Homo sapiens: one gene and its partner. The protein of the gene in region 1 purifies or fractionates together with the protein of each later gene. This does not show direct contact. Each region holds a gene or a part of one and is shown in the gene's direction. Other genes may lie near its edges.

Region 1 (3,910 bases):
TGAGGATTAGGTAAATGAATACATGGAGAGGTCTTAAAACAGTGGCACATGGTGAGGGCCATATATGTGTTTGCATCACCATTATTGTTGTCATCATCACCATCATCACCATCATCATCATCATCATCTTTTTAGACAGCTCTTTATGCACCAGCCTGCCTTTCTTCCTGCCTCCCTTTTTCCTATCGTTCACCTATCCATCTGTCTGTCCATCCATCCATCCACCCACACATCCATCCATCCATCCACCCACACATCCATCCATCCATCCATCCATCCATTTAATCTTCTCTAATGGGAACACACCCATGTGCTCTGCAGGAAACTGCTTGTTCCACTCTGCATTCCATTCCATAAGAAATGGACACGTTTATGTCAATAAATGCTGTTAAACAAAATGACTGAGGTCCTGGTAAATTGAGGTTTGGGGTTTGGGTGATGGAAAACCATCCCTGAACACCTGTTTCCCTGGGTTCTGTATCCATGGGGTAAAATTAGACTTTGTCTTGGTGACTTCAGGTGTAATGAACTTTGCAGATCAATAACATTTGCAATAAGAAAGATGGTTTCAAAAATATCTTCAAAATCAAAAGTAACCAAATAAATGTTTATGCCATTTTACTATTTCCTGCCTCCCTAATCAGGCTGGGGTTCCTGCAGCCAGGGACTGTGTGTCCCCCACATCTTCCATCAGACTGACAACTCCTCAGGCAAGGCTGTTTCTCTCTCTCTCTCTCTCTCTCTTTCTTGCTCTTTGCTGCCCTGCCACCCCAGCCCTGTGGACACTAGAGTTCTGGTTTATGTGCCCCTTTTCCCACTCTGTATAAGAGCCCCCTGGAAGAAGAGGACCACATTACTGAGGATGGGTGTCCTGCGATTCCAGAGCAAACGGCTCTTCTCATCACCCCCAATGCCCGATATGAAGGGAACACGTCACCTGCAATTCACCACCTCTACCCCAAGCTCTAACAGACATCTCATGTCGAACAAGTCCAACAGAGAATGGCCAAGCTCCCTGCCCAGCTTGCCCTCCTGCAGCCTTCCCTATCTCTCTGATGACAACTCCATCCTTCTAGTTGCTCGGGTCCCAAATACTCCAGTGATCGTTGACCACTCTCTCTCACACCCACATCCAACTCATCAGCAAACCTCATCGGCTCTACCTTCAAGATACATTCAGGATCCAACCACTTCCCACCACCTTCCCTGTTACCCTGGGACCAAGCCATGCCATCCCTCGCTTAGATAATGGGAAGAACCTTAATGCACCATCTGATGTCATACACACTTTACTCATTTAACTTCACCTACGGTCTGTCTCCCCCAGAATATAAATGTCGTCAGAGCAGGAATCATGGTCTCTTTTGTTCATAGTTGTATCCCTATCACCTAAATGAGTGCCTGACACATAAAAGATGATTAACAAACACTTGTCAAATTAACAAATGAAGTTCTACAAAGAGCCTCAGAACAGGCTGAAGCTTGCTGTGCTGAGCTGAAAGAAGAGGGATTTTCAGAAATGAGTCCACGCTCCCAGGTCATTGCTCTGAGCTCTTTTTCAAGTTCCCTCCTCTCTGGCTCCCCAAGAATGCTTGCCTGGGGTGGCTTCTGCTGTCTGTGGAGTCTGGGCACAAGGGCCTACCCTCACCTGTTGGGGGGTGGTATTGTGTGGCGAGACGGGTGAACCTGCGTGGAAGTTATAACTCTACCACTTACTAGCAGTGAGACCTGCAGCCATGGTTCTCTTACCTGCAAAATGAGGATAAAAGTCATAATTGTTAGTGTTTTAGTGAACACAGGTGCCAGGAGCTGTGCTAATCTTCTTACACATAACTCATGTCTTTCCCACATCAACACAATGGGACAGGTACTACTGTTACAGCTGCCAACTTACACATGAGGCAGCTGAGTCACAGAGAGGTTAAAAGGTTTGATAAGGATCACAGGTGGTTATAGGCAGAGCCCGCACATAGTCAGCCCACAGAAACACTGACATCATTGTAATAGGGGTTCAGGCACCAGGAGTCTTTGGAGGGGAGGGCAGAGGCTGCTGGGGAGCTCTGGAGGGTCTCCTGTCAGCAGGTGAGTCCTGCTTCGCCCGGGGCCCCCAGTTGAAGCTCCCCTTCCCCATCTCCCAGACAGGCCTTGGGCACCTCCTCCCCTGACCTCCTGGATTGACAGCCCTGAGTGAGGAGGGTGTGGAGCCAGGAGGTGGGGACCAGGCTCAGCCAGGCTAATCAGGTCGCAGGGTGAAATTTAAAGGGAGGAGGAGGCACCAGTCCATCAGAACTCACACTTCTTCCTGGCAAAGAAGTGCCCAGGACGGGAGCTGGGGAGCCAGGGCTGATCTAGGAGGCTGGGAGCCAGGTGACAGGATGGCCCCAAAGAGAGTTGTGCAGCTGTCCCTGAAGATGCCTACCCATGCCGTGTGTGTGGTGGGAGTCGAGGCACATGTGGACATTCACAGGTAAGAGCTGGGAGGCGCTCTCCTGGCTGCAGAGAGCTGGGTTAGAGTGTAAGTCAATGGGGTGGGTGCCTGGTAGACAAGTCAGGCACGTTGGAAAGGATGCTGGCAGGAGATAGCAGAGAAGGTGGAGTTGGCTGTGGAGTCTGGAAGGAAGGAACTAGGGTCTAGTCAGGTCCTCCTTGGGGCCCCAGCTCCTGGGCACTGGGCTCAGGACATTGGCTTCAATCCCCTGGGTAAGAGTCCAGCCTTAGATTTCTAACTCTGAGCCCTGGGGTCAGGCTTTGGGGTCTGGGCCCTGCATTCTGACACCTAGGTAGAACTTGTGTGGAACATCAGATGGCTCAAGATGGGGAAGAGAACTGGTTCCCACCTCCCTCAATTTCTTGCCAAGCCCCCATCTCTTTGAGGTGAAGGGACGTGTGTGGTAGCTTGACCCTTGGAGGTCAGCCAGAGATAACTAGATTGATTCCAATCAGGAGGGAGTGGTTAGGAAATACTCGATGAATTAATATGAAGAGAGAACCTGGAGCAAGACGGCTGGGACTTATGTTTGCTGTGAGATGATGGTGATGACGCTGATTATGGTGATGAACAGTGATGATGGCGATGATGGCGGTGATGGTGGCAATGATGACATCTGAGGGGGCATCAGTAGCATTTGCTTCTCCTGTTGACCCAAATCTTTCCTGTGCTGGCTGTGTCCAGATGGGGACTCGGGGACTCAGCCTTAGTTTCCCTACCTGGCCACTAAGGGAATTGGATTTGGTGATCTCTGGTGGCATTTCCAACTCTGAGAGGCTGTCTATGGATTCCATCCCTGCTGGAGCAGGTGGGGCTGAACCCCTTGCAGATAGGGGGCTCGTGGTGGGAGTCTCCCTCAAAGAGGAGCTGGGTGCTGGGGGTCTGTTACTGGGTGAGATCTGAGCTCCTTTCTCCCTCTTGGGACTCAGCCCCTGTACCTGCTGGTCTGGTTAATGTATGTGGGGCCCAGGGCCAGCTGCCCACCTGGCCTCTGGTGATCCTCTGCTCGAGAAGCCCTTCCTGCTTCTCTGTTGGGCAGTGGTCTGTGACCCCGGTGGCAGGGCTGGGGAGGAAAACCAGGAGCCATGGAAACCAAACCTTGACTCTAAGTTGCTGCTGGGAGCCCCGCTGTGGGGGCTGGTTCTCTCGGGTCTAGGTGGCCAGCAGAGACCCCATTGTCTCTTGCCCTGTTAACATAGGCTTGCCAGATTTAGCAAATAAAAATACAGGATGCCTGGTTAAGTTTGAATTTCAGATAAAAAACAAAAAGCTTTTTTAGTATATTGCATGGGAGATATTTCTACTAAAATAATCTGCTGTTTAGCTGAAGCTGAAGTCTTTTTTTTCTTTTTCTTTTTTTTTTTTTTTTTTTTTGAGATGGAGTCTCGCTCTGTCACCCAGGCTGGAGTGCAGTGGCGAGAT
Region 2 (3,910 bases), on another chromosome or scaffold:
GCGGAGGTTGCGGTGAGCCGAGATAGCGCCATTGCACTCCAGCCTGGGCAACAAGAGCGAAACCCTGTCTCAAAAAAAAAACAAAAAACCCCACAAAAACTAGGAGCCTGGAAGGCCGGACTGGGTCTCCGTGGGAGGGGCCTGGGTCTGGAGAGCAGGGCAGGGTCTCCTGGGCCTAGGGGATGGGGATGGGGCTGGGTCTCAGAGGAGGCAGGGTTTACGTGCAGAAGAGCGGACTTGGTCTCCGGGGTCCCGAGTGGGTGACGCGGCCCGCCACAGGTGCTTCCTGAAGGTGAGCCGGCTGGAGGCACAACTGCTCCTGGAGCGCTACCCCGAGTGCGGGAACCTGCTGCTGCGGCCCAGCGGGGACGGCGCCGACGGCGTGTCGGTCACCACGCGGCAGATGCACAACGGGTGCGCATGCGCGTCTGGAGAGCCCTGGGTGGGAGGAGGGTGGGAAGAGGGTGGGCGCGGGGGCGTGGTCAGAAGCAGGGGCGGAGTCCGACCCGCTAGTGGGTAGGCCAGGGGACGGAGCCAGAGCCGAGACGGGCGTCTGGGGACGGAGTCAGAGCTGAGCTGGGCGGATTGGGGGAGGAGTCAGAGCTGAGGTGGGCGGATTGGGGGAGGAGTCAGAGCTGGGCTGGGCGGATTGGGGGAGGAGTCAGAGCTGGGCTGGGCGAGCTGGGGCGGGTGGAGTCAGAGCTGAGCAGAGTACACTGGTGGCGGAATCAGAGCTACGCTGGGCGTGTTGGGGCGGAGTCAGAGCTGGGGTGGGCGGGCTGGGGGAGGGGTGGAGTCAATGCTAGGCAGGGGAGCATGGGGGCGGAGTCAGAGCTGGGCAGGGAGGGCTGGGGGCGGGATCAGAGCTCCGGGGTCGTGGGATCCTGAGGCTGGCCTTGCCCCAGGTATGGGGTTAATGCCTAGGGAAGAAGGTAGAGCCCAGGCCGACTCCTTTGCAGGAAGAGCCAGGTCTTGGGTTAGGAGCTGGGACTCCCTGTAGGTGGAGTCAGACTCCTAGGTTAGGATCGGCCCCTCCGGAACGTCAGGTACGCAGGGGCCAGGTCTGGGCCACTGGAGGGGATGAAGTCAAATCCAGGGATGGGAATGGGCTCTTTGGGCAGCGTCAGGATCTACGGGGGGGAGTCATGGCCGTGATCCTTTTTGGAAGTTGAGTAGGGCTATGGAGGCGGAGCCAGCCCTGGGGGCGAAGTCAGAGCCTTATGCCAAATTCTCAAGCCCAGTCCAGGGTTGGGCAAGGCGATGTAGAAGGTAGAGTCGGTGCCTGGGGGTGGAGCCATTACAGGGGGCGGGGCCTACCTGGGGCGGGGTCTTTAGGGCCTGGTTCTCCCTAGGCGCGGTGCCAGAATTAGGGGCGGACCTTTCCTAGGGTGTTGTCAGTCTGGCCTGGTCCCTCGCTGGAGGTGGTGCCAAGACTAGAGGTGGGGTCTTCTGTGGGGGTGGGTCGGTCGGGCCTGGTCCCCGCTGGGAGCAGTGCTGGGATCGGGCAGTCAGTGCTCCGGGAGGTCAACGGGGCTTAGGTCCTTTATGGGGTGGAACCAGTCAGTGGCGGGGCCTTCTGTGGGGGCGGAGCCAGTATGGACCTGTTTCTATTGGAGGCGGAGCCTGGAGTTGGGGCGGGGCCTTCCCTGAGGGGCGGTGTGGGAGCCTGGGCTGAGCCACTCACTCGCTTTCTCCTGGTGCAGGACGCACGTGGTCCGGCATTACAAGGTGAAGCGGGAGGGCCCCAAGTACGTGATCGATGTGGAACAGCCGGTGAGCGTTGGGCCAGAGTCCCTAGAAGTGACTTTGTGGGGTCCGCGTCCCTTCTCCAGCAGCCTGACCGCTCCCCCATCTGCCCCCAGTTCTCTTGCACCTCCCTGGACGCCGTGGTCAACTATTTCGTGTCGCATACCAAAAAGGCGCTGGTGCCATTCCTGTTAGACGAGGACTACGAGAAGGTGCTAGGTGGGTGCCCCTTCGGGGAGTTCGGGGGCCCAGTGCTCACCTCTCCCGCCCCCGCTCGGACGGACCGGGCCGCCCCTGGCCGCCGCGCTTCCTCCAGGCCGCCCTCTCTGTTCCAGGCTACGTGGAAGCCGATAAGGAGAATGGCGAGAATGTGTGGGTGGCGCCCTCCGCTCCGGGCCCAGGTGACGCCCCCTTCCCGCGGGCCGAGGTGGGAGGGATCGAGGACCCCGCATTCAGCCACGCCCCCTCAGTCAGTTTGGTGGCTGCACCTCCTGCATCTGATGTTCCCAAAGTTGCAGGGACAGAAATGACTCAGACCCTGCCGTCAGGGTGTGTGTGTGGGGGAGGGGGCGGGGGTCCCAGCTTGGGACAGAGCTAAACACAGACACTCTCATCCTGTAGGGTTGAATTTGGGGTGGAGGAAAAACCTGGGCTCGGGGGAGGCGCCTAGAGTTCGGGAGAAGATGGGGGCAGAGCAGGGAAAGCTTCCCAGAAGAGTGGGTCTTTGCAGATGGTCCCAAAGGATCTCCTTAGGTAGAAATGGGCATTGAGGGGTCAGAGGGTACACCCGGACAAGCAGTAGCCCCACAGGGACCGAGAATCCGGGTGGGTGTTGGGAAAGAGGTGGAAATCGGTCCTGTTTATGGAGTGGGAAGAGGAGGCAGAGAACACACTAGAAAGGAATGTAGCGTGGGTTGTCTGGTCTTCCCTGGTCTGGGCGTATGCAAGGACCCCCAAGTGCCACATCCACACACACATTACACATGCATGATCCATGCAACTGTGGCCACCTGCCTAGCCAGAAGGTGACACACACTTGTGCGGGCACAACAGATCACACATGCATAAATACACGTGTGCCCCAATTCCAGTCACATACAAATGCTATGTAGCACAGATACACCTGTGTCATGCCACAATCACATGTGTACACATAAATGCAGATACGTCCGTGCACCGGCACAAACTCGGACACGTGTAGATACACGGGCAAAACGCACTCATGTAGACAAGGACTAAAGCAGCCACCTCAGCAGGCGTGCAGTCACACACGTATACACACCACAGGTGTGTGTGTACAAACGTTGCACTTTAACTTATCTAGATTCAATTAGTGTACACGTGTATGCCACACAAAGACTTTTTTTTTTTTTTGAGATGGAGTCTTGCTCTGTCACCCAGGCTGGAGTGCAGTGGCGCAATCTCGGCTCACTGCAACCTCTCCCTCCCAGGTTCAAGCGATTCTCCTGCCTCAGCCCCGAGTAGCTGCGATTACAGGAGCCTGCCACCACGCCAAGCTAATTTTTGTATTTTTAGTAGAGACGGGGTTTCACCATATTGGCCAGGCTGGTCTTGAACCCCTGACCTCAGGTGATCCGCCCACCCTGGCCTCCCAAAGTGCTGGGATTACAGGCGTGAGCCACCGCGCCCGGCCCAGACACAGACTTATACATGGGCACACACACAGACACACAGGGACACATGCCTGTCTCCAGGCATGCACACAGACCCCCCCGCCAACCTGCAAGGTGTCCCTGTATGACATGGGTCTTGACAGTGACCACGTTTCCCCATCAGGTCCTGCACCCTGCACAGGTGGCCCCAAGCCGCTGTCACCTGCGTCTAGCCAGGACAAGCTGCCCCCACTGCCCCCACTACCGAACCAGGAAGAGAACTACGTGACCCCCATTGGAGATGGCCCAGCTGTTGACTATGAGAACCAAGATGGTGGGTGGGGAACAGAGCTGCTGAGAGCTGGGGGTTGGGGAAACAGGTTAACAGCTGATGTGACACGTTACACTTTTGTCCACGCAGTGGCTTCCTCTAGTTGGCCAGTCATCCTGAAGCCAAAGAAGTTGCCAAAGCCTCCTGCCAAGCTTCCAAAGCCACCCGTTGGACCCAAGCCAGGTTGGGGTCCCCCCCATATCCCACCCTCACCTGATGG

The links.
Region 2: the proteins of PADI1 (region 1) and STAP2 purify together in Homo sapiens (affinity purification with mass spectrometry; 2 studies listed by BioGRID and IntAct, with this or other methods). This does not show direct contact.

The regions. Positions count from the first base shown.
Region 1 is NC_000001.11:17,202,843-17,206,752, forward strand, and holds the start of PADI1 (protein-arginine deiminase type-1), read left to right. Parts: upstream 1-2,285; 5' UTR 2,286-2,375; coding exon 2,376-2,467; intron 2,468-3,910. UniProt on the Homo sapiens protein: Catalyzes the deimination of arginine residues of proteins.
Region 2 is NC_000019.10:4,325,179-4,329,088, reverse strand, and holds part of STAP2 (signal-transducing adaptor protein 2), read left to right. Parts: intron 1-279; coding exon 280-414; intron 415-1,703; coding exon 1,704-1,773; intron 1,774-1,862; coding exon 1,863-1,965; intron 1,966-2,081; coding exon 2,082-2,147; intron 2,148-3,543; coding exon 3,544-3,693; intron 3,694-3,780; coding exon 3,781-3,873; intron 3,874-3,910. UniProt on the Homo sapiens protein: Substrate of protein kinase PTK6. May play a regulatory role in the acute-phase response in systemic inflammation and may modulate STAT3 activity.